2 linked regions of the Homo sapiens genome follow. The protein of the gene in region 1 purifies or fractionates together with the protein of each later gene. This does not show direct contact. Each region holds a gene or a part of one and is shown on either strand. Other genes may lie near its edges. The genes, in order: ALG10B and NPLOC4.

The links.
Region 2: the proteins of ALG10B (region 1) and NPLOC4 purify together in Homo sapiens (affinity purification with mass spectrometry; 2 studies listed by BioGRID and IntAct, with this or other methods). This does not show direct contact.

The regions. Positions count from the first base shown.
Region 1 is NC_000012.12:38,308,150-38,320,252, forward strand, and holds the start of ALG10B (dol-P-Glc:Glc(2)Man(9)GlcNAc(2)-PP-Dol alpha-1,2-glucosyltransferase), read left to right. Parts: upstream 1-8,624; 5' UTR 8,625-8,744; coding exon 8,745-8,915; intron 8,916-10,111; coding exon 10,112-10,309; intron 10,310-12,011; coding exon 12,012-12,103. UniProt on the Homo sapiens protein: Dol-P-Glc:Glc(2)Man(9)GlcNAc(2)-PP-Dol alpha-1,2-glucosyltransferase that operates in the biosynthetic pathway of dolichol-linked oligosaccharides, the glycan precursors employed in protein asparagine (N)-glycosylation.
Region 2 is NC_000017.11:81,632,709-81,644,888, forward strand, and holds the start of NPLOC4 (nuclear protein localization protein 4 homolog), read right to left. Parts: upstream 4,405-12,180; 5' UTR 4,223-4,404; coding exon 4,208-4,222; intron 1-4,207. Other genes in the region: TSPAN10 (tetraspanin-10), read left to right, coding at 9,705-9,740. UniProt on the Homo sapiens protein: The ternary complex containing UFD1, VCP and NPLOC4 binds ubiquitinated proteins and is necessary for the export of misfolded proteins from the ER to the cytoplasm, where they are degraded by the proteasome.

The sequences.
Region 1 (12,103 bases):
ATATTAATATAATTAATTATATATTCTTAATTATATAGTGAAAGATAATTAATAGTGGTGTTACGAATAATCAAGTTAAAAAATGAATAGCCTTCCACAGAAATTCTTATATTTGCAGCTTTTCGCCTAGGTCGGTGGCATTGAACATAAGGTGATTACAAAGTGCATAAGCATTTGACCCAAATGCATTTGTGATAATTACTTATTTTTCATTAATGAAAGCATGTAGTATTTTCAGTAAAGCTGTTATATTTTATATTACATTGAGAAATAAGAGGTTTATGAATAGGTAACTTGAATAAAAATATTTTGATCAGCCATTTAACACATTAATTAATTTGATTCAACTATTTGTATCTGGCTAGTTAGGATTTAAAGAAAATCTATCTGCAAGACTTTCACTTATACCCATGAGGGATTAGGCATAGAACCATACACTGAAAATGTGTGAATTTTACTGTGCATAAATTATATCTCAATAAAAATAATTTTCAAAAAATATCTGTATAGACATTTTAAGTTGTAGTAAATAATATAGGACGTTTTATTAAACAAGTTTTTGATTGCCGGTATTACTGCTGTTTAAGTTAAGGAAATAGTTGGGAATGGTATAACAGGATTCATGGCAGTAGAAAGCCAAAAGTATTGATTTAATTTCTCTCAACTTCAAAAAAAAAAAAAGAAAAAAAGAGAGAGACAGAGAAATAAAAAAGTCTCAGTTCAAGAGCTGATTACAAGGTTTGCCATTTGTAGTATAAGACTATCATCACATCTGCTTAGAAATGAAACACACATAAAAGTGTTGGCCAGGATACCAGAGAGCAGAGAGAAGGAACTCCAACCTACAAACTGATTTATTGGCTGCTTCTGCCTCATTATAATTAATACGTGTCCATTTTTCTGAGGAATTTGGCTAAGATTTGCTTTCACTGCAATGAGCTATCTGATAACATGTTTGCAGAGGTGGAAAAGTAGAGTGCTCTACCAATGAAGAATACCTATAATCATGAAAAAAATTAAAGTTCTGGAACATAACAAAAAGCCAAATTAGTTTATGCTTGCTTGATAAATAACCTTCTTGACATTCAGCACTGAATTCTCAAAAATAAAAGAAAGGGCTAAGTTTAGGTTGAGTGTTGAGCATTCTACTAAATGATGTTGGCCAAACAAAAACACTATGTTAAATATTTATTATATTAAATTTTTAAGTTACCAGGTCAAAAATATCACCTTACACATCTTCTGGACATAATACAAAGTTGTTTATTTTATTTTACTTTTTAAGTTAAATTTTCATTTGTTGCAAGGTAATAGAACATTTCTCAAACTACACAGGGTAAATAACTAGTTTTATTCTAAATTTCCAACCTATCATGGATTAATAATTCTATGAAATATAACAAAAATGAATTGTTAGAAAAGTGAAAGAAAAAACAGACATATAAAATATAAGCTCACTTTTAGTATTAATTCTACAAAAATAAAATTACTCTGCCATACTGCTATAAAAATTTCTAAAAGCTTATTCTTAATTTCTGTACTTACATGTTCAAAAATAGTAATACAGGGATCTGAACAGGCACCAGTCCACAAAACACACTTTTAAATGAACATCTGTGTTTCTTCCAAAGGTAAAATAAGTGCAATAAGCTTATAATTGTTCTAAATAAGGGTCACTATCTTTGCCAAACTTTGATTTGTTTTTCCAAGATTTAACTGTTTTCAATAGTTTGACAGTTACCTTGGTAAATTGAAATAACAAGCCTATGTTGCCATTTCTTGACTTTTTCTTATTTTTATTTATTATTATTTTAATTTTTATTTTAGGTTTGGGAGTACATGTGAAGGTTTTTTACATAGGTAATCACATGTCATGAGGATTGGTTGTGACGGACTTCTTCACGAAAAACTGGACAATTGACTTGAATTAAACTTTTATAAATGAGAATATTCAAATGACCAATAAACATATGAAAAAAGCTTATTTTCATTCGTCATTAGGTAAACACAAATTAAAACTACAATGAGATGCCATAACATATGCACCAGAATGGGTAACAAAAAACTAACAATACTAGGTGTTGATAAAGATATGAAAGAAGAAAAACGCTCATATACTGCTTGAAGTATAAATTGGTACAACCACTTTGGAAGACCCATTGTTAATATTTAACCTAGAAAATGCACCAATTTATGAGACTCTCATTACAATCCTAGGTATATACTCTACAAAATATGTGCTTAGGTAATATAATCAAGACACACACACACACACACACACACACACACACACACACTCTTCAAATTCTAGTGGAGATCTGTTTTTATCTTGTGCTAAGTGCTGAGCCCTGAATGTCAAAAGTCTTCCTCTCAGTATTCCTGCTCCATCCTCAACTTTCAGCACTCTTTGCAAGCCTGCACCTCAGAGGGATTTTTCTCCCCATGCTTTGTCCCATTCCTCAACAGTTGACTTCTTGTCACTCAGGGCCAGCCAGGTTCATAGCGGGAGGTGAGGAGGTAGGTTCAGTGCTCCTAGCCCATCTTCAGTGGTAGACACATCCTGCTTGAGACCCTACCTGAGTGGGGGAATGGAGGGCTTTCAAGTTGTTCCTGTTCCTCCTCACTATAGTAGCCAAACTGTGCCTTGCATGCATGGTGTTTTAGAGCCAGGGAGTGTTCAAGGCCTCTCCAGTAGGAGCACCATACCTCTGCTTTGAATTACTGAAGGATGGAGGCCTGAAGACCTTCCTGCCACTCCATTGAGGGCAAAAGATTTTTACTTCTCTCCCTCCTCCAGGATCTTTGGCTGCTTCCTGGGGTGGAAGTATCTCACCTTCCTCAGAGAACTAAGGCTTTTTCTTCACATGATTGAAGGGCCCAGATAAGTGTGCGGTGTGTTGTTCATTCCCCAGAGGCAGCCAATCATGCCATGTGTGCCTGTATCTCCATCAGAGTCTGGTTTCTCACCTGCTTCCATTATTTTTTTGGATGATGACATCACTATTGTAAGATATTTTCACTACCAAAAATAATAGTAATGAATTATTAATATTGTAAATAATGAACTTTAAAAAATTACAAACATAGCCATCCTGAGTGGCAGTCACATTGGGTGGATATTTGAGTGCTGACCAGTAAACAATACTACAATCAGTAAACATAAACTAAAACATAACTGGAATCAGTAAACAAACTATAACCTAACTGGTGGCAAAAGTAACAAATTGGTCCTGATTCTGTTGAAGTTGTCAGCATCCTCTAGTGGAAATACATGTTTTTAAAAAGCACGTTTTTAAATGCAGAGACCTTTCTCACACATTTTTGCAGTCATTGAAATTTGGCAGTTATGGAAACTAACATTTGGAGGCAGTAAAAAACAGTGTAGTGTTTCATTTTATTATAGTAAATAAATGTAAATTATTTAATACAGTTTGTTGCCTCATTCAGAAAACCAACCCAAAATGAAGCAAGAACAAAAGGAAATCTAGAAAGAACAGGAACCACAGGAGATCAGAAACTACTGATTCAATGTTTCTGCTTTGTCTGGTGAAAATAAAATCTCTATGAGGGTTTCTGTATTTAAATTTAATTAATGAAAAGTCAGGTGATCTCCATTCTCACTAAATTAGAACATGCACATGTTTAAAGAGCAATATTCTGAATGTACGCCAAACTTTTAGCCAGTGCAGGGTACCTAATGCTCAGCCTAAGGATGCCCACTTGTTTTACTCTGCTTCTAAAGCCAAAAGGGAATTAACCAGAAACCCTCCTCAATATTTCACAAAACCTCTATTTTCAGTAATAACAATTGTATCATAAATCTCACTCTAACGTCTGAAATTTTAAAATTAGTAAGATCATATTACTGTGTCTCTTAAACTGTAAAATTATTTAAGAATTAAAATTAATTCAATGTCTTCTCTTCTAACTTTTTACTTTGGTTGATTTAATAGTACTGTAATTTCATCAGTATAATAGTGCAATTCATTTAATAATCAATTTATGATTCTCTTAAATTTTATGCAGTTTAAAGGAAAAGGAATTCATGAAGTTTCTTTTCCTGGAATGTTTCTTATCTAACTGGCAGCAATAGCTGTAGGACTATGGTTTTTAAGCTACTTATTTTAGCAAAAAGCACAGTTCCCCTTCGCATAGTTTTTTGAAAGAAAAGCCATCTGTCTGAATATAAATATATGTAACTAAAAGCCATTAAATTGTAAGTATTTAAGTTCCTCTTCTTCAGCTGCTGAGGAGGAACATCGTCTATATGTTCATTGGCAATGAACTTTGTTCCTTGGCAGGGTGAAGCCTGGAGATGAAGAATTGGAGAAACCAGGGGACAAAGCAGCATGAGTGATCAGAAAAGCAAGGGGAATGTAGAGGACAGCAGTATTCTCAAACTTTCATGTCCATCAGGTCCACTTGGGAATCTAAGGGAATCATAAGTGATTACAAAATGAACGTTAAAACATGTATTACTTGGCTCCCTCTGCTATCAGAATTTGTTTTCCGGTAGGTCTAAGGCAAGACTTAATTATTTGCACTTCTAACAGGTTCCCAGGTGATACTAATGCTGTGGTACAGGGACCACACTTTAAGAACCACTGTTATAAAAAAAAAACATTTAGGAAGTTTTGCTTTGGGTTGTATGGTATATCTTTCTAAATGACCAAGTGTATTAGGCCTTTTTCACACTGCTATAAAGAACTGCAGAAGACTGGGTAATTTATAAGGGAAAGAGGTTTAACTGACTCACAGTTCAGCATGGTTGCAGAGGCCTAGGAAACTTACAATCATGGTGGAAGGCGAAGGGGAAGCAAGTCACCTTCTTTACAAGATGGTAGGAAAGAGAATGAATGCAGGAGGAACTATCAAACACTTATAATACCATCAGATGAGAACTCACTCAGTATCATGAGAACATCATAGGGGAAACTGCCCCAAGGATTCAATTATCTCCGTCTGGTCTCTCCGTTGACACGTGGGGATCGTGGAGATTATGGGGATCATAATTCAAGGTGAGATTTTGGGTGGGGACACAGCCAAACCATATCACCAACCATTCTCTTTGTCTGATACTACAGAATTTACCTGGCCTGAGACTTTCAAGGGTAAAACTGGAAAGTCTGCCACAAACCAGAAAGATTTGTTCTATGAAAGTTATCAGAATCAAAATGGGGCCACTTGCATAAAAACCCTGAAAAATGGAGCTAAGGAAGACCAGAAAGGGAGGGTTTATATGCGTGTATGCCTGACAACAGGAACTACGACAAAAGACTGCACAAACCACAACTTTGCACAAAGGCCACCACAATCTCACAAAAAATTACTTCTGTGAGGACATTTGCCCAGCAACTGCCTGTCCAACCTCAAACTGGTGCCACCCTTTCTACCAGTCCTTGTAACCAAGGATAATTGTCTCAAAGCAATTTATGTAACCCTCTTCATTTTTCTTTTAAAATCCCTTGTCTTCTTTTACCTCCCTATGTTCATTGTATTCTCACCAAATAAATATTACTGTTTTTTAGAAGGGTCTCTCCGTGTGTGTGTTACTTAGGTTTAACCAGTCCCCTATACAATGTCTTCAAGACATTTTCAGTAGAGCTAAAATACTTGCTAATGCTTTTGTACTAAAATGTTGTGTGTTTTTTTAATTGATTCATTAATTTTAAAATTTAGATTTTAAATTGATATGTTAAGATTGACCTCAAGGGTAGAGTTGCATTTTAGAGGTTATCATCTGTGATTTTTGGCCCAGGGTGCAGTACTCTGCTGTAGCTAGAACGAATTGTCACCTAGAAAGGAGTAAACCGTCACTCTGATTAGCAAGTGGCCAATGTTTTCATTCAGCAACAAGTGAAAAGGGGTGCAATAAGAGGCAGGGTGTTTCTTGGACTAATACTTCAAAGTTATTACAGTTACAGCCTTTGGGGAAATTCACTGTTCAGATATGGCTGTTTCAAACAGTTAAGTATATGCTATGTTGTCTGAGTTCATCAAATTAGGAATGTCTTAATTGATCAAAGTCAGCTAGGTTATACCAGAGAAATAAAGTCAAAATCTTAATGGCTTATAAACCAAAAAAGATGTATTTCTTGCTAAAACAACCTATCCTTAGAACCCCAACAGAAATTGCCCATTTTTCTGCCGTAACTTATTTATCATAATTCAAGTAGCACAAATAAATAGTTGATGTGCAATTATAATGGGATTGCTCATCCTAATGACTCTTTTTCACAAACATCTATGGAAAATGGCAGTTGGAATTCTGAATGGAAAATATAAGTTGAAATCAATGCTGATCTAGTTTTAAATGATAGGTCTAATAAAATGTAGTCTATTTCATTAAAACCCCAGAGGTAGCTATTTTACTAGGTCTTGATTTAGGAGCAGAGCTTTGGAAAGCATTTCAAGATTATCAAAGATGCTGTAATCTAAGAGTAGAAAAGTGACAACAGCTTCATCGATTTGCAGATAGTAAAAGTAACTCACTAACAAATGAGTGAAGTACTCTATGAAGAACTCTACTGGGCCCATGGAGCTTCTTAGCATTCTTAGGTAATATGTTTTACATCAATCGTTTCCAAATATGAAGATCAGTATTCAGTGATTTGAGATGGCTCTCTAGAATCTAGTTTTTCACAATGATCCCCCAGCAGATTTTGATGTAATTAGTCTGTAAGACGAACATTTTTTTAAAAGATGAAACTTGTATTTCAAATTGGTGTATGGAAACAGAGAATAGTGGAATGTAAATGTAAAGTTATTGGGACTAGTGAAACATTCAATTCAGTATATATTGTAGATTATTTTAACCTATAAGGCTGTGAAGTTATTTTATTACTCTTGGTCTGATGTTCTAATTCCTACACTTGGTTCTGACACTAATTTTTTATGTAATTTTAGGTAAATTATTCATTTTTTAAAAATCAGCTTCTTTTATAAAATGAAGTCAAGTAGATTATTAATAAAGATCCCTAGCCATCCTAAAACCCTATATTTCCTTGAAACTTTCCATTTTATGTAAAGCGATGTGTGCAGCATGTATAGGAGTCAAATGTTTAACATAAACTATTGGTGGCAATTGTTATGAAGAAAAATGGAGAGCATAAATGTCTAGTCTTGTTCTACTCCCTTTAAAAACGGCCCACTATTTCTAGGGTGGGTCAGTAAGCTGCAGAGTATATATAACACGATTTAGCAGGTCAATAGGTCAGGGGCTAATTACTCGTAGATCACATCAACCTCTTGAAGACTGAATCATCTGGAGATGTGTTACAAGTGACTTAAACAGATAAGTACAGCATGGAATCAATAATAAAATGGGAGATGATGGTTAAAGCAAAGCTAAGCATCACATCAGAGTAGAATCCTGACATGATTTTATTCCAGTAATGTAAATATTCCCGTCCCAGCCCTCATTCACCACTACCTCCTCTTATCATTGAGGAAACAGGCAGAGACAGACTGGAAAGGCAGTCAGCTTGATTTAAGAAACTTTCTTAAGTTCAGAAATACTGAATTATTTTTAACCCAGAAAAAGAGCTCAATTGAGAACTCTGAGGTTTGCAACCTTAAATCCCGACTCAATCTGATATATGCCTGCCAAAGGCAACCTGACTGAGGTTACCTGAGAGAAAGTTTTTCTACAAAACATGGCCAACCATGCTCAAGACAAAATTCCAACACATAATTTATCTTCGGCATTCTTCAAATTATTTACCACATCTCCTGCCCCCAACACCTAATCCCAGAATACAGGAATTTGATGATGTCTACACAGCCTATAAAAGTCCACAAATTTAAGTGCCTACTGTGTGAAAGCCATTTGGGGGACTACAAACATAAAGGATGTATAATGCCACCCACTAAGATGTTCACGCTTATGATTTAGTAGGAAAAACAGAAGGCTGCCTTATAAATATTAACAACCTAATTTACAGGCACACCTAAAACATCCCAAATTCTAAAATATATATTTTCTTCCAAATCCTACAGGGTAATATGGCTATGAGAGTGCACTAGGAGTGTCAATTTTACTAAATCCTCTGAGAGCATCCACATTTTGAAAGAGTTCTCTCTTAACCTAAACAAACAAACAAACGAACAAACACTCCTCTCACTGAAGTTCATTCGGCATTGACGGGTCTCTGGTTCTTCAAGTTTTCATCTGAAAGTCTCAGTCTTTGCTATCACAACCAACGCCCCCTTCCTACACTCCAAGGTTGATGGAATGAAATGTCTTGGAATTGAGGGTTTAATTAATTCGGATCACTGGAGAGAAAGAAAAGAAATAACGGGGGAAAAAAATGTGTTAATTTTAGGGCTTGGAATTGGAAACGTGGGGAAACGTCGCCACCTTCTGGTAAGTGATGGAAATGAGCAGGAAAAAAGATCCAAGCTAAGAAGCGGCTTTTTTTTTTTTCCAAAGCAGCAAGCCACGCCCCTCCCGCGCTCGCGAAATCCGAGACCCGCCCTTTCCGGAAGTTTTGACACTGTGCGCCCCGAGTAATGTGATGGAGAGGGTAATCATCCGGTCCGTTATCTAAACCCGTCACTCCAGGAAACAGCGACCCGCTGTTTTCCGGATCCGCGCTCTCCCAGCATCCTTTGCCTTCCGGTATGTGGCCCCGTCTGGCTAGTCCTGTCTAGCGCGCCCATTTCGAGCCCAAGTTTCCAGCTCGGGTTTCCGGGCTCAGAATTTTCCAGGAGTGGGTTCTTGGGCAGTGGCTGTGGGAGCAGGAATGGCGCAGCTAGAGGGTTACTGTTTCTCGGCCGCCTTGAGCTGTACCTTTTTAGTGTCCTGCCTCCTCTTCTCCGCCTTCAGCCGGGCGCTGCGAGAGCCCTACATGGACGAGATCTTCCACCTGCCTCAGGCGCAGCGCTACTGTGAGGGCCATTTCTCCCTTTCCCAGGTGGGGTGCCCAACCTGTCCCCACCCCAGGAGAGGCCTGAAAGGTCCCAGCGTCCCCAGCTCCTTCTCCCATCTTTAGACTTAACTCGTCCCTTTCCACCCCACCCCAGCCTCAGAACATGAAAGAAACTGGGTATAGTCTTTTGTTCCTGTCTCTGAGATCTGTGAAATATTTATTAAATGAATGAATAAACAGCAGATCTGATCCCCAGGGAGGAGTGATCTGGGAGAATACTTAGTGGGGAACTGAGCGCTCCTCTTGGCAGCTGACAATATCGATCCCACTTTGTTTTTCCTTGTCTCAGGATTAAAGGCATTCGGGTGCTCCTTGGAAATATCAGAAAACTTCCCTTTAGCTCACCTGTTAAGCACCTCACTGTGCATTTTAGGGGTGGGATAGGGTGGACTGGAGGGATCTTCGGCTACCAAAAAGTGACAATTTATAATCACAAATTCCTTCCCTGGGTATTTTTAGTGAACTATCTGTTGACTGGATAAACTGGCAACCAGTCAAGTCACATCATTTTTGAATATATATTTGACTGTGCAAGTATGTACATATAAATATCAAAATAAACATCCCCTGCTTTTCTGGTGACACAATATAGGGTACTGGCTAGAAATATAAAGTCTGTTTTAGAGAAAGATCTGATCTTAAATCTTGGTGCTGTGATTTACTAGTTTTGTGATCTTGGAGATGTTCTGAGTTTCAGAAATTCAGGTTACTCATCTGCAAAATGACAATAATCTTTACTATAGGGCATATTGTAATGTTACAATACAGAGGGTTTGGCACAATTTCTGTCTCAGTTTATGTCAGCTGTCATCATGGAGCCTGTGGTCCAAATGTTTTCCTAAACTTAGAGTCCCAAACAATGTTTCCATGCTTTTAAAAACTGGAGCATTTGCAGTTTATTTATCAAAATAAAGGCTTTTAAAGAACATTTCTTGGAAAATAGAAATAGATTTTAAGTTGTTGTTTATTGGTTGCTGCTACCTGAACCATCACTAAGCTGGTCCGGGGGCAAAAAATAAGAAAAACTAATCCTGTTCTGCCAAGGACTTACTTAATCTTGTCATAGACTAACTTCTCAAAATTTCTGATTGTTGCTGGAGATGAGACTTGGGCTTGACATATTTGTGTCTGTCTTGTTCGTATTACCTCTTGCTTTTACTTCATTTTCTTTCATTTTAAAGTGGGATCCCATGATTACTACATTACCTGGCTTGTACCTGGTGTCAGTTGGAGTGGTCAAACCTGCCATTTGGATCTTTGCATGGTCTGAACATGTTGTCTGCTCCATTGGGATGCTCAGATTTGTTAATCTTCTCTTCAGTGTTGGCAACTTCTATTTACTATATTTGCTTTTCCACAAGGTACAACCCAGAAACAAGGTATGTTTCAAAATACTTAATTACAAGTTTATGTGTAGTCAGGTCCACAATTACAATGAATTAGTTTTATGAGATTTGGTGAAAAATGTCTTTAACACTTTGTAACTTTGTATTTTTTGTATATTATGTAAAGGTAAATTTAAATTCTCCATCTCCATTTTAGAATAAATTTGTATTTAAATACTTGAATAACTTATTTGTAAACTCTAAAGTAAATATTTGTTAAGTGAGTCAAACCAGTTCAATAAATACTTACTGAGCTTATTCCATGTGCTGGGGACTGGGACTACAGAGATAAATGAGGCAGTCTTTTTCTTGTAAAACGTATATATTCAGTAGGGAAAACAGACTTTACCTGAGGACTTTTGATGTGGTAATAGTGCAGGCCCCGGAGGTCGATTGCCTGGGTTAGAATTCTCTCCCTGCCACTTAACCAGTTTTGTTACTGTGGGCAGGTTAACCCTTAGTGGCTCCATGTCTTCATCTGTTAAATAAGAATAACAATAGAATCTGCCTTATAGAACTGTTATAAAGGAACAAGGAAACTTAATAAATGGAAGATGCTTCAAATAGTGCCAGATATATAGTAAGGGCTCAGTAAATATTAACTCTAATAATTATTTTTAACCTTAAGAGATTATTTCAGTAGTGTCAATTATGATAGAGTAGTAGACATAAGATGCTATGAGGACACAGAGAAGGAGCAGGGAAACACTTACTGCTTTTCTGGGAGGGAGAGGAGTATGTGGCATTCAGTAAGTCCTCACAGAGAAGATGGTACCAGAGCTGAGTCCTGATGAACGGATAGGGCTGTGTAGGGTGAGGAATTAATCCTGGGGAGACAAACAGCATAAGCAAAGGAAGAAAGGCATTGAACAATGAGGTGCAGGGAATTGGTCTTGGAATTACAGGATTAGAAAGTAGAGGGATGTAAGGCTAGAGAAGTAGGTCATGAATGCCCTCATATGTCACAGAGAGGACTTTGAACTTTAGCATGTAATGGAGAGACCTTAATTTTAATCAAGGAAATGACATGGTCTGATTTAGTGATTTAGATTAAGTGGAGTATACAATTCAAGAACATAAGAACACTTTCAAATTCTGAAATAGCATGTCAGAAAGGCCAAAATAAGATATATAAGTTTAGACTGGCTCACTTTTCAGAAAAATACCGTTATTTCATCATGAAAATATCATCTTGAAAAAGTAAGTCTGGATATGGTAAAATAAATACCATATGCATGTTTACATTCTCCCTTGTGTAGTGTTATGAAGGATTTCCTTAAAGGAAAGTGGTGATTATGGCTAAGTGAATCCTTATTGAAGGCACTAAAACATAAGCTCAGGGAAATGGAGCCAGCATTGTGTCCTATTTATCTCCATAGTCCCCACAGAACTTAGTCGGTATCTTGCACTCAGTAACTCCTTAACTAATCATAGCCTGATTCAAATTGTGTTAAGCTATAGAAGCTTTGGCATACACACGGTCTCCAAACTGATAGGTATAAATAAAAAGTACCAGGAAGTGTTCTTATAAATGTTTATTGTGTTTTTGCAAAGCCAGAGATAAGATTAATATTGATTAATTTTATTTAAATAAGGTTTGAGTAGTTGAGTAGTTTTAAATAAATCTCTTCATTAGGTAAGCAGAAATAGCATTTATCATTAAAATAATTGTATCTGTGTTTTTTCTTCCTCCAAGGCTGCCTCAAGTATCCAGAGAGTCTTGTCAACATTAACACTAGCAGTATTTCCAACACTTTATTTTTTTAACTTCCTTTATTATACAGAAGC
Region 2 (12,180 bases), on another chromosome or scaffold:
AAACTGTCACAAGCCATTGTCTAAAAAAGATTTCCACTGATACAGGACAAAACACCATAAAGGCTCAGTCTACTGGGATTTGTCCGCTTTTAGTAAAGTAACTAAGCCTAATCTAGATTTTCCTAAAATAGGATAACCCTGTCCTGCATTTTCCCATAACTTTCACTTGGCAGAAAAGGCTCCACCCAATATGTTCTCAACTTTTAAGTCAGGAGATTGAGACCATCCTGGCTAACACGGTGAAACCCCATCTCTACTAAAAATACAAAACATTAGCCAGGCGTGGTGGAGGGCGCCTGTAGTCCCAGCTACTTGGGAGGCTGAGGTAGGAGAATGGCGTGAACCCAGGAGGCAGAGCTTGTGGTGAGCAGATCGCGCCACTGCACTCCAGCCTGGGTGACAGAGCAAGACTCCGTCTCAAAAAAAAAAAAAAAAAGAAAAGAAATACAATTCTTTATACTTCTAACGTCTAGTATACTTCATTCTAGATTCAATACCCCAGAAAAACGTTTTCACAATATATAGCATTAGGTAAATACTTCCACTTATTTGTTTCTAAAATCTGTCTGCCAACACTTAGCTATCTTAAAAAGGAAAGCTCTGTTCTAATGAAGGGGAACATGTGAATGTTCCTTCAAACGATGACTCTGGAACAAGAGCATGTTACCGCCATTCTTTACAGAGCTAAATGGTTCAGGCTGCAGAATTCTAAGGTGAAGAAGTCATCCTACTTGATCCTCTACCACAGAAGATGGGAGTCCAGGTTTCCAAGGCCAACTCCAGTATTTAACAAGAGACAAACATAATTTGTACGATGGAAAGTTCTGGCCTAGCCTCTGACACAGACTACAAAATGAAATACACAGGAAGAGACAGACCTGACAACATGAACACACAGCCTCTTGGTAACTTAAGTTTCCCTATTTATAAGAAAATAAGACTAGAACGCTTCTTGGGGAAGTTGAAGAACTGGTGAGATACAGTTAAATCCACAGAAACTCTTTTCTCCCCCCAAGACAGAGTCTTGCTCTGTCACCCAGAGTGGGAGTGCGATGGCGCGACCTCGGTTCACTGCAACCTTTGCCTGCCGAGTTCAAGCAATTCTCTTGCCTCAAGCCTCCCAAGTAGCTGGGATTATAGGCGCCCGCCACCGCGCCCAGCTAATTTTTTTTTTTTTTTTAAGAGTCTCACTCTGTCACCCAGGCTGGAGTGCAGTGGTGCGATCTCGGCTCACTGCAATCTCCGCCTCCCGGGTTCTAACTTTTCTGCCTCAGCCTCCTGAGTGGCTGGGACTACAGGTGCACGCCACCACGCCCGGTTAATTTTTTGTATTTTTTTTTTTTAGTAGACGTGGGGTTTCACCGTGTTGCCCAGGCTGGTCTCAAACTCCTGAGCTCAGGCAATCCACCTGCCTCGGCCTTCCAAAGTGCTAGGATTACAAACGTGAGCCACCACGCCCTAATTTTTGTATTTTTAGTAAAGACGTGGTTTCACCATGTCGGCCAGGCTGGTCTCAACTCCTGACCTCATTATTCACCTGCCTCGGCCTCTCAAAGTGCTGGGATTACAGGTGTGAGCCACCATGCCCAGCCCAGAAACTTTTCAAAAGATCTCTTTCTTAAATTCAAAATAACTTTTTAAATCAATTTCAAAAGAAGAGTGTTTTAATTCCTCACAATCTGAGACATTCAACGAGATCCAATGCTGTCAATGAGAGCCTAGCCTTATACACTAGTGGGAAAAAAAAAATGGCCTTGTCTGAAACACTTTTCACTTGTCAATGGTTATTTTAACTCAGTTAAAAGTACAAAGGTAGTTTGAAAGAAGGTTTCAGTGCTAATTCCTAACCTATTTCTAGGCAAAGTCACCAATGATTAACACTTTTTTTTTTTTTTTTGAGACAGTCTTGCTCTGTCGCCCAGGCTGGAGTGCAGTGGCGCAATCTGGGCTCACTGCAACCTCCACCTCCCGGGTTTGAGCGATTCCCCTCCCTCAACCTCCAGAGTAGCTGGGATAACAGGTGCATGCCACCACACCCGGCTAATTTTTTATTTTTAGTAGAGACAGGGTTTCACCATGTTGGTCAGGCCAGTCTTGAACTCCTGACCTCGTGATCCGCCCACCTCGGCCTCCCAAAGTGCTGGGATTACAGGCGTGAGCCACTGCATGGCCACATTTTATTTTTCAAAGGAGTCAAAGGTTTCTTGGCCGGGCATGGTAGCTCAGGACTGTAATCCTAGCAATTTTGGGACCCCAAGGTAGGAGGATCCCTCGAGCTCAGAGACCAGCCTGTACAACATAGTAGAGACCTCATCTCTATAAAAAAATGTTTTTAATTAAAAAGATTTAAAGGCCAGGCGCGGTGGCTTATGCCTGTAATCCCAGCATTTTGGTATGCCAAGGCGGGCGGATCACGAGGTCAGAAGTTCGAGATCAACCTGGCCAACACGGTGAAACCCCATCACCACTAAAAATAAAAAAGACATCAGCCATGCGTGTTGGCGAGCACCTGCAACCCCAGCTACTCGGCTGAGGCAGGAGAATTTCTTGAACCCGAGAGGCGGAGGTTGCAGTAAGCAGAGATCGCACCACTGAACTCCAGCCTGGGCGACAGAGTGAGACTCCATCTCAAAAAAATAAAATAAGGTTAAAAAAAAAAAAAAAAAAGGAGTCGACGTTTCCTAAGTTTCTCCTGGGCCATATATTCATTCCACTCATCTCCAGGTTGGGAAACATGGAGGCACCAAGAGGGCCCCTGACTGGAGAGATGATGGAACCACCAGAGAACAGCCTTGCAAATAAGTGCTAGGTTCTCCTGGAGACCCATTTGTTTGTGTGTGTGAGACAGTCTCATTCTGTCGCCCAGGGTGGAGTCCAGTGACGCCACCTAGGCTCACTATGTTGTCCAGGCTGGTCTTGAACTCCTGACCTCAGGTGATCCACCCACCTGGGCTTCCCAAAGTGCTGGGATTACAGGTGTGAGTCACCGCGCCGGGCCTGGAGACCTATTCTAGACAACACCTGGCAAAACTGCAGAGACTGTCACAATGCTACAGTATGAACATTACTCTTCACCCAATACTGCTAAGCTTCCCCCAGAAATCCCAAATCTTCCTTAATATTAACCAAAATGCTCCTGTCCAATGGTCAGTTAGTTTTTTTCCCATCACATTTACTTTTGGGAAGAAACTTCTCACAACTTAACGAGGGACTGGTTTTCTGATTTGTCACTGATATTTTTTACGTTAAGGAGGAGTGTGTGACAATTTTTTTTTTTTTTTTGAGACGCAGTCTCGCTCTATAGCCCAGGCTGGAGTGCCATGGAGGGATCTCAGCTCACTGTAACCTCCACCTCCCGCGTTCAAGCAATTCTCCTGCCTCAGCCTCCCAAGTATCTGGGATTACAGTGCGCCATGACGCCCGGCTAATTTTTTGTATTTTTAGTAGAGACAAGATTTTGCCATGTTGGCCAGGATGGTCTCGAACTCCTGACCCCAGGTGATCCACCCGCCTCGGCCTCCCAAAGTGCTGACATCACAGGCGTGAGCCACTGCGCCGGGCCGACAATTTCAATTTCAGGTAAAAAGTGAAATCAACATCATTTACAACATTCCTTTTAAAGAGGAATTGTCAAGTTGTCCTTCCAAGTAAGGAGCAAAGCCGGCAAGTTACTGTGTTTTCATTTTCCCAGGTCTTCTGGTGGGGAGGGAGCTCTGTAACGTCCCCGTCTGCAGAGCTGCTCTCCTTAGTGACTCATGACAAGGCACTTGCTGGGAAGCGGGAGAGCAGGAGGAGAGAATCAGAGGGAGATTAGGATAAGAGGTGTCCCTGGCTCTGAGAGGGGCAGGACTGGCTGGGAGTCCCTGGAATTAGACCAGGAAGTCTCCTGGAGCCGGGAAACGGGTGGGGAAGGAGGGCGGTTTCTCTTCGCCACAGTCCATTCTCCCTGCTTAGAAAGGCTCGGCCTTTCCCTGCCCAGGGCGGGGAACCGGGGTCGTAAGTCCCCTGGGGAGGGACACGGACGGGAAGCAGCCGAGGGGGGTGAAAGTCCCCGAGAGGGGCCCAGCCACTACAGAGAAAGCCCTGGCGAGAGAAGAGAAAGGGGCCGAGTCGCGGCGCCGGCAGGCCCGCCTCCCCCACAGGCCGAGGCCGGCAAATCTGCTGCCTCATCCCGGCGTCCCCGCTCCCGCCCGGCCGCCGCACTCACGATGCTCTCGGCCATGGCGGCTGCTCCTGCCTCCGGGCTCGAGCCCCGGGCCGCCGCCGCCTGCCGCCCCAAGGGCCTCGCAGACCCGGCCGCGGCCTCAGCCCCGGCCCCGGCCTCCCTACGCCGCCGCCACCGCCGCTCCAGCTTCGCCCGCCCGGCTCCGCCAGCCGCCGACGTCCCGGTGCCTCGCTCAATACGCTCCCCTCGGGCGCGAGGCCGGGAAACCAGGTTCCGGCCCCACCAACGGCTCGACGCATGCGCAGGGCGGCGCCGCTGACCCGCCCCCGCCATCCCTGCAACTGGAGGAGGGGATTTTGGAAAGTTGCGTCTGAGATTACTTCTGCTCGTCCTCGGAAACCCAAGCGGCACAGGAAAGTCCAAAAAGGAAGCAAAGACGAGCATCCGAAGTCTCACCCAAAAATAACTACTGCTGCGTATTATAGCGTATTATAATTGGGGAAACAGCATTCCAAACTTCTCTCCATGCACAGGTAAGTAGAGAAACAATTTCAGGAAGGCAGGATCACACCTTCATGTTTTTTTTTTTAAGTATTTTTTAAATTTAACATAAGAAAAACAAACGAGTTTAAACTGCATTTCAGGCCGGGCGCGGTGGCTCATACCTGTAATCCCAGCATTTTGGGAAGCCAAGGTGGACGGATCACCTGAGGTCAAAAGTTCGAGACCAGCCTGGCCAAAATGGTGAAACCCCGTCTCTACTCAAAATACAAAATTAGGCCATACGCGGTGGCTCACGCCTGTAATCCCAGCACTTTGGGAGGCCGAGGCAGGTGGATCACCTGAGGTCAGGAGTTCAAGACCAGCCTGACCAACGTGGTGAAACCCCGTCTCTACTAAAAATACAAAAATTAACTGGGCGTGGTGGCGGGCACCTGTAATCCCAGCTACTCGGGAGTCTGAGGCCGGAGAATCTCTTGAAGCGAAGAGGCGGAGGTTAGAATGAACTGAGTTGGTGCCACTGCACTCCAGTCTGGGCGACAGAGTGAGACTTCATCTCAAAAAAAAAAAAAAAAGACGTCACTTCACAGATTCTAAGGATTTTTGGAGTTGGATACCAGGAAACCGGAAGACTAAATGTATACATATTTCACAACATCACAATTACTGTGACAGTTTTTTTAAACTATGTTAAATTACATTAATTGATTAAATTATGTTAGTAATTGTATTAGTTTGCTCAGGGTGCCACTGTAACTACCCAACATATTGTCCCTGCCCACTGCCTAGACTTTATCAAGACAGGGGAATTGCAATAAAGAGTTTAATTCACACAGAGCCAGCTTGTACAGGTTACTGAGGTTTTATTACTACTCAAAAAAAATTAGTGTCCTTGAGAATTCAGGGATCAGAGTTTTTTGTTTTTTGTTTTTTTTTGTTTTTGAGTCCGAATCTCACTCTGTCACCCACACTGGAGTGCAGTGGCGCGATCTCGGCTCACTGCAACCTTCACCTCCTGGGTTCCAGTGATTCTCCTGCCTCAGCCTCCCGGGTAGCTGGGACTACAGGCGCACACTACCATGCCTGGCTAATTTTGTATTTTTCGTAGAGACGGAGTTTCTCCATGTTGGTCAGGCTGGTCTTGAACTCCTGACCTCAGGTGATCCGCCCACCTGGGCCTCCCCAAAGTGCTGGGACTATAGACGTGAGCCACCGTGCCCGGCTGGGGATCCGCGGTTTTAAGGATAATTTGGTGGGTATGGGGTCAGAAAGTAGGGAGTGTTGATTGGTTGGGTCAGAGGTGAAATGATAGGGAGTCAAAACTGTCCTCTTGTGCTGAGTCGGTTCCTGGGTGGGGGCCACAAGATATGAGCCAGTTTATCAATCTGGGTGGTGCCAGCTGATCCATGGAGTGCAGAGTCTGCAAAATATCTCAAGCGCTGATCTGTTTTTTAATAGTGATGTTATCCTGAGAAGCAATTTGGGAGGTTTAGAATCTTGTAGCCTCCAGCTACATGACTCCTAAACCATAATTTCTAATCTTATGGCTAATTTGTTAGTCCTGAAAAGGCAGTCTTGTCCCCAGGTAGGAAGGGAGTTTGTTTTGCAAAGGGCTGTTACCATCTTTGTTTCAAAGCTAAACTATAAACTAAGCGCCTCCCGAAGTTATTTCAGCCTACACCCAGGAATGAACAAGGACAGCTTGGAGGTTAGAAGCAAGATGGGTTCAGTTAAGTCCGATCTCTTTAACTGTAATAATTATCTCAGTTATAAGAAAATATAACATAACAAAATCTCTCACAGACTGGGTGGTGGTTTGGAATTACTTTTCTTTTTTTTTTTTTTTTTTTTTGAGTCGGATCTCCCTCTGTCGCCCAGGTTGGAGTGCAATGGCGCGATCCCAGCTCACTGCAACCTCCGCCTCGTGGGTTCAAGCGATTCTCCTGCCTCAGCCTCCTGAGTAGCTGAGATTACAAGCGTGCGCTACCACGCCCGGCTAATTTTTATATCTTTAGTAGAGACAGGGTTTCACCATGTTGGTAAGGCTGGTCTCGATCTCCTGACCTCGTGATCCACCCGCCTCAGCCTCCCAAAGTGCTGGGATTATAGGCATGAGCCACCATGCCCGGCCTGGAATTACTTCCTAACAGTCCTGGAAGCTAGAATCCCAGATCAAGGTGTCAGTAGACGTGGTTTCTCCTTTGTTTTCTTCTTTTTTTTTTCTTTTAAGGCTGGGGTCTTGGCCGGGCGCGGTGGCTCACGCCTGTCATCCCAGCGCGGTGGCTCACGCCTGTCATCCCAGCACGGTGGCTCATGCCTGTCATCCCAGCGCGGTGGCTCACGCCTGTCATCCCAGCACTTTGAGAGGCCGAGGCAGGTGGATCACGAAGTCAGGAGATCGAGACCATCCTGGCTAATATGGTGAAACCCTGTCTCTATTAAAAATAAAAAAAAAATTAGCCGGGCGTGGTGGCGGGTGCCTGTAGTCCCAGCTACTCGGGAGGCTGAGGCAGGAGAATGGCGTGAACCCGGGAGGCAGAGCTTGCAGTGAGCCGAGATCACGCCACTGCGCTCCAGCCTGGGCGACAGAGCAAGACTCCGTCTCAAAAAAAAAAAAAAAAGAAAAGACTGGGGTCTCACTCCCATCGCCGAGGCTGGAGTGCAGTGGCACAATCGTGGCTCACTGTAGCCTCGACTTCCCAGGCTCAGGTGATACTCCCACCTCAGCCTCCTCAGTAGCTGGGACCACAAGTGCTCACAATCACACCTGGCTAACTTTTTGTATTTTTAGTAGAGATGGGATCTTGCTATGTTGCCCAGGCTGGTCTCTAACTACTACTAGGTTCAATCAATCCACCCACCTCAGCCTCCCAAAGTGCTTAGATTACAGGCATAAGCCGCTGTACCCAGCCAGGTTTCTTCTTATACCTCTCTCCTTAGCTCGAAGATGGCACCTTCTCCCCGAGACCTCACATGTTTTTTCTTCTGTGCACACATTCCTCGTGTCTCTCCATGTGTCCCACCGTGTGTCCCAATTTTCTTGTAAGGATGTTGGATTAGGGCCCACGCTAATGGCACTTATTTATTTATTTAGGGATGGAGTCTTGCTCTGTCACCAGGCTGGAGTGCAGCGGCACCATCTCGGCTCACTGCAACCTCTGCCTCCTGGGTCCCAGCAATTCCCCTGCCTCAGCCTCCCATGTAGCTGGGATTACAGGCATGCGCCACGATGCCCAGCTAATTTTTTGTACTTTTAGTAGAGACAGGGTCACACCATGTTGGCCAGGCTGGTCTCAATCTCCTGACCTCATGATCCACCTGCCTCGGCCTCCCTAAGTGCTGGAATTACAGGTGTGAGCTACCGCGCCCAGCCCCTAATGGCCTTTAAAGGCCCTGTCTCCAAGTCCCATTCTGAGGTCCGGGGGGCTAGAACTTTATCATAAGAATGTAAGGGGCACAATTCAGCCATAACAGTGGTAGATGATGATCGTTTCATTAAAAGATTACCCAGACTTTGGCCGGGCGTGGTGGCTCACGCCTGTAATCCCAGCACTTTGGGAGGAGGAGGCGGGCAGATCACTTGAGGTCAGGAGGTCGAGACCAGACTGGCCAACATGGTGAAACCCCATCTCTACTAAAAATACAAAATCAGTCAGGTGTGGCGCCTGCAATCCTAGTTACTCAGGAGGCCAAGGCAGGAGCATCGCTTGAACCCAGGAGGCAGAGGTTGCGGTGAGTCAAAATCGTGCCACTGCATTCCAGCCTCAGCAACAGAGCGAGACTCTTGTCTCAAAAAAAAAAAGGTTACCCATCCTTAGAACAGACTGAGTTGGAGGCCGTGGACAGTCCCTGTGACCGTGACCCTGGCTGTGGAGCTGCTGCAGGGCCCATGAGGTTGGGTTTGTCACCTTTGGGGAGGTGAAGGGAAGCTGGAGCCCAGAAGCTCAGCCTGCAGCTCTGGTCCTCGCCCCGACTTCCCACCTGCAGCATATCCCACTTCTCCGAGGAAGATCTGAAGACTCAGAGTGGCCTTCAAGGCCTCACCTGATCCAGCCCTGTCACCTCATGGACCTCCCTCCCACCCCCATCTCCGCTTGCCCCACACAGCCAGGTGACCTTTCCTCCTAAAACTTGCCCGGTGTGCTCCCACCCAGGCGTCTCACGCGCGCCTGAAACCCTCTGCCTGCTCCATCAGTACATTGCCTGCTGTGCTGCACCACCCAGACCACCTCTTTGGACTGCTGAGTGTTGGTGGCTGAGTCCGGGCACAGTGGCTCCAGCCTGTAATCCCAGCACTTTGGAAGGCCAAGGCAGGAGAATCACTTGAGTCCAGGGGTTCAAGACCAGCCTGGGCAGCACAGCAGAACCCTGTCTCTACAAAAAAAATTCAAAAATGAGTGAGGCAAGGTGGCGTACATCTGTAGTCCCGGGAGGCGAGGTTGCAGTGAGCCGAGATTGCGCCATTGCACTCCAGCCTGGGCAACAAGAGCGAAACTCAGTCTCAAAAACAAAAACAAGGAGGTGATCTGGTGGGGGGACGCTGTTTCATTCGTGCAGTGAACAAGCCGGGGGATAGATTGGCGCTGGGGCTGCCCATGGGTCTCTTGGGATTGGGGTTGTGAACCAATTTACCAGGGTCTGATTCCCTGGTTGGGAGCTGATGGAGCGGCTGCTGACCCTGCAGAGCTGAAGTCCGCATGGGGGGCTGCAGTGAGAGCCACAAGGCTGGCACCCAAACATGCCTGCCTGAGTCACACCTGCGCTGAGCTTAGGGGACCCACAGAGCCAGGGCTGGGGAGAAATATATCTCCACAAGCAGAGGCCTCCTTAAGCTCTAAAATGTGATTCTTCACATGACTCAACTGTGACTCCGGCATCTGGGTAGGGCTCGCACCTCCCCCATTCCCATGCCCAGGGCTGCACTGTTCACAGACTAGCCCAGGGCCGCAGTCAGGACCAGCCCAGCAGCCCAGCCACAGAGGAGCCAGCGAACCTCTCCCGGCGCCTGTGCTGGGGGCTTTCTGTTCCAGCGTCAAGGATGGAGGAGGGGGAGAGGAGCCCCTTACTGTCCCAGGTGAGCCATGCCAAGTGGCCTTGCCCTGAGGTTGGAGATGTCCCCAGCCCTGAAGTCCTAAGGGAAGTCCCTGGGCTGGGTTCACACCCACCCCTGCCCCTGGTGCCACCCCACACCTCAATGCTGAGATTGGGTTGAGGGGGGTGGTTCTAGGCAGCCCCCTCCCCCTTCCCCACTGCGCAGTTCTCTCAGCCCCATGCTGGCCTCTGGTCAAGGGATCTGCCAGATCTCCCTGAGGGCCTTGGGGGCAATCTTTGGCTCAGGGTGCAGGAGGGGGTGAAGGCAAATGTCCCTTGCAGCCAGCCTCCAACGGCCTCTGGCCCCCAGTGGCCCCAGTCTGGCCAACCAGGCACTGACAGCCTGTCCTTTTGCTTCTAGTGACTTGTTGAGGTCTTGGGGGTGATAAATAACCCTCCTCTGGGGCCGGGCACAGTGGCTCACTCCTGTAATCCCAGCACTTTGGGAGGCTGAGGAGGGAAGATTGCGTGAGCCCAGGAGTTCAAGACCAGCCTGGGCAATGTAGCGAGACCCTGTCTCTACAAAATATTATATATATATATATATATATATATATTTAGATAGAGTCTCGCTCTGTCACCAGGCTGGAGTGCAGTGGCACAACCTCGGCTCACTGCAACCTCCGCCTCCTCGGTTCAAGCAATTCACATGCCTCAGCCTGCTGAGTAGCTGGGATTACAGGCACATGCCACCACACCCAGCTAATTTTTTTTAGTCGAGACAGGGTTTTACCATGTTGGCTAGGATGGTCTCGATCTCCTGACCTCGTGATCCACCCGCCTCGGCCTCCCAAAGTGCTGGGATTACAGGCATGAGCCACCGTGCCCGGCCTACAAAAAATAATTTTAAAAAATTACCGGGACGGCCGGGCGCGGTGGCTCACGCCTGTAATCCCAGCACTTTGGGAGGCCGAGGCGGGCGGATCACGAGGTTAGGAGATCGAGACCATCCCGGCTAAAACGGTGAAACCCTGTCTCTACTAAAAATACAAAAAATTAGCCGGGCGTAGTGGCGGGCGCCTGTAGTCCCAGCTACTTGGGAGGCTGAGGCAGGAGAATGGCGTGAACCCGGGAGGCGGAGCTTGCAGTGAGCCGAGATCCCGCCACTGCACTCCAGCCTGGGCGACAGAGCGAGACTCCGTCTCAAAAAAAAAAAAAAAAAAAAAAAATTACCAGGACATGGTTGCAGTGCCTGTAGTCCCAGCTACTCAGGAGGCTGAGGAGGAAGGATGGCTTGAGCCCAGGAGTTTGAGGCTGCAGTGAGCTGAGAGCCTGATGCTGTGATCAGCTTCTTCCTGGTGAAACTGGATTGGAATGGGATCCTTGCCCAGCACACAGCCATGGCTGCTTTTTATTATTTATTTAGTTTTTGAGATGGAGTCTCGCTCTGTCACCCAGGCTGGAGTGCAGTCACGCGATCTCTGCTCATGCAACCTCTGCCTCCTGCTCATGCAACCTCCACCTCCTGGGTTCAAGCGATTCTCCTGCCTCAGCCTCCCAAGTAGCTGGGATTACAGGTGTGTGCCACCACGCCCGGCTAATTTTTTTTTTTTTTTTTTTTTTAGTAGAGATGAGGTTTCTCCACGTTGCTCAGGCTGGTCTCGAATTCCCGACCTCAGGTGATCCACCCACCTCAGCCTCCCAAAGTGCTGGGATGACAGGCGTGAGCCACAACGTCCAGCCCGGCCATAGCTTCTTATTCTCCTTTTTAAAAAAACTCTTCCCGGCAGAACTGGGCACCTGCGGGGCTGCCTCTTCCCCCACAGAGAGAGACCAGCAAGCCTTTCCTGCCAGTGGGCCAGGGGGTCCCCTCTGAAGGCCCTGCAGCCTCCAGGCGGTCTTCCTGGGCTCTTGGGCACCCTCCTCCCTGTCCTGGGAGCCTGTTGGGCAGGGCACTGTCCTGTCCTCGGCAGCAGGGTCCAGTGCCGTGTCCACACTCAGTGCGGGCCGTTGGTGGGGCCGAAGAATGGGTGCTGGGATGTGAGGACTGGTTTCAGAGGGGAAAGAAAAGGGCAGCCATGTGGGCCAGCCCCTGTGGCTGGTGAGGAAGCCCCTCTACACAAGTTCCATGCTGCAGGCACACACAGACTGATCCACGCAGATGCTGTTTCAAACTCTGGGGACGCAGCCCCGCCTGTGTGCTGCGGGAAAGCCAGGGCGACCCTGACCCGGGGAGGCCGCAGACACCCACGCATAGGACCAGGAGGGAGTGGGTGTGTTCACTGAGCACCGCCCTGCTTGGTCTTCACCACAGCCTTTCAGAGTCTGCTCATCACCCTGTTCTAAAGGTGGGGTCCCACCAGAGCTGGGACCCTCACTGCCCCTTCTGCTGCTCAGCCGAGCGGGACGGCCCTGAGGGCCCCCTGCCCCTGGCTGTCCGCATCTCTGAGCTCCAGTGCTGCCCTCCGCCATCCGGCATCCTC